Linked DNA regions of Homo sapiens: region 2 is linked to region 1. Evidence: fine-mapped expression QTL. Tissue or cell type: whole blood. Region 1 holds a variant in brackets; the other region holds the start of a gene. All regions are shown on one strand. Distances are between the middles of the regions.

What was found. PIP is the estimated chance that this variant, and not a neighbour inherited with it, causes the effect.
Region 2: it holds the start of NRDC, and the variant in region 1 is fine-mapped to the expression of NRDC in whole blood (INTERVAL, PIP 0.97).

The regions. Positions count from the first base shown.
Region 1 is chr1:51,799,138-51,801,637 of GRCh38, forward strand. NRDC (nardilysin convertase) reads right to left here. Exons shown (of 31, transcript NM_001101662.2): 21 at 1,419-1,546. Among named protein-coding and RNA genes, the nearest start is that of MIR761, 36 kb to the right of the region's middle. The variant C/T (reference allele first, on the strand shown) is at 1,160.
Region 2 is chr1:51,877,650-51,880,319 of GRCh38, forward strand. NRDC (nardilysin convertase) reads right to left here and starts at 1,078. Exons shown (of 31, transcript NM_001101662.2): 1 at 626-1,078. The coding sequence starts at 966. RefSeq lists enhancers at 1,068-1,362, 1,246-1,425, 1,816-2,369 and a silencer at 1,116-1,165.

The DNA of each region.
Region 1 (2,500 bases):
GTAGTATTCATGAGTTATTGGCAGGGCTATTCACCGTATCAATGGTTGCAGATAACTCTCCTTTTTTTATTATTATACTTTAAATTCTAGGGTACATGTGCACAATGTGCAGGTTTGTTACATAGGTATACATGTACCATGTTAGTTTTGCTGCACCCATCAATTCGTCATTTACATTAGGTATTTCTCCTAACACTATCCCTCCCCCAGCACCCCCACCCCCCAACAGGCCCTGGTGTGTGATGTTCCCTCCCTGTGTCCATGTCCTTTCTAACATATATCTAGTTATTAGTTTTTGTAACTTTCTGTGATCAGAATATCAGTTATTACATGACTGATTCCTAACCCCTTCTTTCTAATTCTGGAAACTGATGGGTTCATTACAGCTGTGTCAAAAGCAGAACCTTTACGCTGTTCACTATTTATAGATGCCCAGGGCAAAACTGTCAAGTAGGGGCTAGCCAGTCATGTGCACAAAGGGGTAGGTCTGTTCAGAGGACTTTTCTCTCCCTCCCACAAAGGCTCTACCTGCTAATAGAGGGTACCTCAGAAGGATACTTTTTTCTGATTCACGCAAAAGTATCCTACAGGCTACAATTAGCCCTGGACTAAAGTAGTAAGAACAGGCTCTGAATGAAGGCCCAAGGGGGTTGCCTGTGAGCAGAGGGTTTAAGTATTAGCATACAGACTGTGTAGCTGCCTTTCTGCTCTCTTCTGGAAGCTTGGCTGAATTCTGGATAGTTAAGATTGCTAGATAAGTGACATGTTTAGCAATTTAACTCAGCTACTAATCACCAACATACTAAAATCACCAGTAAATACTTCTTCTGGTTTGTTTTTTGTTTGTTTTTCTATGAGACAGGGTCTATCTCTGTCATGCAGGTTGGTGTGCGGTGGCATGATCATGGTTCACTGCAGCCTCAACCTCCTGGGCTCAAGCAATCCTCCCACCTCAGTCTGCCAAGTAGCTGGGACTACAGGCATGTGCCACCACACCCAGCTAATTTTTTAATTTTTTGTAGAGATGAAGTCTTGCTATATTGCCCAGGCTAGTCTTGAACTTCTAGGCTTGTGATCCTCCCACCTCAGCTTCTCAAAGTGCTGGGATTACAGATATAAGCTACCATGCCCGGCCTAAAACTAGCACTTCTTTAACATT[C/T]AGGTATAATGATTGGTGAAAACACCCTTCCTTACTTTTAGTCTCTACAGTAAGCTGCTTTCAGTCCCATTCACAGCTAGCTACATAAGCTGGGTTTAGAAATACCGTAACGCTATGCACGGGTCTCCTAAACTAGAGCACGATTCAAACACGGATGAAAATTAGCACTGCAACTATAGCCTTAACCCCCACACCCACCCACTAGGGAGAGTAATACTTTCAGGTCCTCAAAATATAAGCTCATCTCATTTATACCCACTTGGCCAAAGTCTCGGGCTTGATGAGGATGTTAAAGTAGGTCTTCTTCAACTGCTCAGTTATCATTGTAAAGACAGCTGGTGTGGAATTGAACTCAGCTAAGTAGTCAATAATGAGCTGAAACAGTAGCTAAAAGAAAAAGAAGGAAGCATTTTAAGAAGCATGGAAATCCACTAGGTATTAGGGAGGGAAATGTTTCTCTTTGGTTTTTACCAGGTACCCAGCATGGAACTAGGCATTGTGGGGGGACATAAGAAAATTACTAACAACTCAATTTGTTCGTTTGTTTGTTTGGGTGTTACCTGGAGACAGGATATCACTGGTCACCCAGGCTGGAGTGCAGTGGTACTATCGACTGTAATTCATTATAACCTCGAATGCCTAGGCTCTAGCCATACTCCCACCTCAGCCTCCTGAGTAGCTGGGACTACAGACAGGGGCCACCATGCCCGGCTAATTTTTTTGCTTTTGTACAGACAAGGTCTTCTTATGTTGCCAGGCTGGTCTCAAACTCGTGGCCTCAAGTGATCCTCCTGCCTCAGCCTCCTAGCCTCAAAGAATCTTAAGGGTCCAAAATTCTAAATAATTGTCAAATTTGGAACAATTCTTCCTTTTTTATCATTTCATGGGTGTTCTCAATAAGATTTGTAGTTTGTCTTCAGATAGATCCTATACTTTTCCTGTTTATTCTTAGCCATTTTATTGGCTTTTTTTTCTCAATATTGTAAATAAATGTAAGATTGTTTCCATCCATTTGTTTCTTTCTTTTTTTAAGAGACAGAGCCTCGCTATATCGCACAGGCTAGTGACACGATCATAGCTAAGTATCCTCAAACTCAAGTATTTCTCCTGCCTCATACTCCGGAGGAGTTGGGACCACCGGCACATCCCACTGTGCCTGGCTTCCATTTCTAAGTGATTACTGGTACTATGGGGGAGAAAAAGCCATTGATTCTGATATACTAGTCTTTTGACCAGCCATATCACACCTAATTTTTTTTTTAATTTTAGTGGTATATGAGGTTTTCTAAGAATACAATCATATCATCTGCAAGGAAAAATATTTTTTCCAAAAAAGTTTTT
Region 2 (2,670 bases), 79 kb after region 1:
GAATTTCAAGGTTAGAAGAAACCTTACAACTCACCCAACTGAGACCTAAGCCCTCTCTAATATATTCCTGGACGAGGTCGCCCAACCGTTTTGGTAATGGAGAACTACCCATGGAAACAAGTCACTTCAACTTAGGCCAAATATGATGCAAAGTTACTTTACTGAAGCCACACCATCCTCTGGTAACTTTCGTCCACTAGTTTCACCTATCACTTAAGTGTCCCTCAAATATTTTGGATAGTGATAATATGCCCCTTAAATATCCTGTCCTCCAAATTAAAGTATCCAACTCCGTCAACCTTTCCTGGTAACATAATACCAAGACTCCCTCACCATTCAGGCTGCGTTCCTCAAAGAAACCTTCATTCTTGCTTTAGCGACTGTATTCAAATGACTCGAAAAGCTTCTCCCATTCTGACGTCTTACAACCCAAGATCTCCCACTTGCCCAGCTGACACCACAGGGAAGCCTCTAATCACGCTTGCCACCTCCACCCAAGGAAGCATTTGGGGTGGAAAGTGTGCCCTGTTGCTCCATTGGGAGACATGGAGACAAGAAGTGACGGCGGCACCGACAGAGAAGCCGGCACACTGTTCGCCTCCCCATTGCAAGCCTCCTCCCTCACCGGTATTGCTTGGGGTCGCTGGGAGACTTGACGATCTCAGGGTCCCCAGCATTACTGAGAGACCCCCTCCGTCCCTCTTCCTCAGATTCATCCGCTCCTAGACGGGCAACCCGGCTGTTCTCGCCCAGATCCTGTCCATTGGGCTGCAGGTCAGGGCAGCTGCAGGTAGACTTCGCCTTGTTCCTTCCAGGCATGGCCAGAATAGGAAAGGGTCTGGCAGCAGCAGAGTCTTCGCACCGACCCCGCGTTTCGATTCCCCAGAGCGCCGCGAGCTCCCGCCCGGCCTCACACAACTTCCTCCGGGTGGCACAGACTGCAGCAACAGTGACTCTCCTCAGCATTCACCACCAAGCTGGAGCGATGGACATCCCGCTTCCCAGGACCCACCTCCTCCGCGTTCTAGAGGCGGTGGCGGCCGGCCCTGGTGCTGCCGCAGCCGCGGGGAACAGGCCTGAACCCCTCCCCCAACCCAGTCTCCCTCTCGCCGACTTCCCTCGTCCCTCCGCCCTCCCGGCCGCCGATGACGCTACTGATTTCAGCCAATCATGAGGCAAGAAAGTAGTCACGCTCACGTAAGCAACCAATCAGAACAGGAAAGGAGAGGCACCAACGTGACCCGGACTGATTCTCGGAACAGCCAGCGAACATTTCGAAACCCAAAGTGGGCGGGGCGAGGGAGAAGAAGCGGAGAGAGTGGCGCGGAGGACGACGGGAGAAGGGCCCCCGGCGCGTTTATGACGTACGAGTGTGTTTTGTGGAAACCACTGAGTAGTGCTCCGCGTGTCAAAGAAAAATATTCCCCTAATGAGAAAACTGAGAAACGAGTGCAGAGAATTAATTCCAAAGTTTTAAATTTTCCCATTCGTGTCATAGTTTGGGTACCCTACTCCTCAGACCCGGGGCGAGCCTTCGGCTGTGACTCAGCACATAAAAAACCAGAACGCCGGAAGTATTTTCCTACACCCGCCGGATGGACGCTGCTCCCGAGCGCCGCAAATACTAATTGGCTCTTCTCTACCCTACAGTCGGCCCGACAGTGGTGGGGTTTCATCCTCAAGCCCTAAGAAAGTGCTAAAAAGACCAGTCTGGATGTGCTAACTCTTCTGTGTGAAAACGTTTTTTAGCTCCTCCAGCCTCCTGTTAAATTCGGCCAATTTTTATCGAGCAGCTGCAGCGTCTGCTGCCTTCAAGTCTCCTTTCCCAGTTTTTCCCGCTAGCAGTGGTCTTTGGTTAGCAATGTAAAATGTGACGGAAATACAAACATAAATGAAAGCTAAAAAGCAGCTGAAATTAGTAAGATGCACTATACTGACACCATGGGGTAAGAGATCATAGCTCATACATACGAATGAGCGGGGAAAGACGTGAAGCAGGGAGATGTGTTGATAGTTACTGTATCTTCAAGGTTTTCGAGGCCTCTTCTGAGTTCCAAATGCAAGGAATACAACCATGAACAAAACAAAACTTGCCTTAGGCTGGGCGTGATAGTGATAGCTCACACCTATAATCCTAGTACTTTGGGAGGCCGAAGCGGGAGGATTGCTTTGAGCCTGGGAATTTGGTACCAGCCTGGACAACATGGTGAGACCCCCGTCTGTACAAAATTCTTTTTTAAAATTAGCCAGGCTTGGTGATGCGTGCATGTGGTCCCAGCTACTCAGGAGGCTGAGGCAGGAGGAACGCTTGAGTCCAGGAGGTCGAGGCTGCAGTGAGCCGTGATTGCAACACTGCACTCCAGCCTGGTTGACACAGTGAGACCCTGTCTAAACAACGACAACAAAAATTTAAAGCCTTGCCTTGGGGGAGCTTGCATCCTAATGGGAAGGAACTGTAAAATATGTAAACTAAAGTAAATCAGGCTTTTAAATAATTCAAGTTAGCTTTCTTCAGAAGTCTTATTGAGGACTGCCACCTGGGAGAGTCAGAGAGTTTTTTTTTTAGACTGCTCCAAAGCAGTGTTTCAGCCCGCAGCTTCTATACAGGTGGTGGCCGCTCTGCATGTGCTTGGAAGTTAAATCAAATGTGCTCAGAAAGGCTGGGCCTGT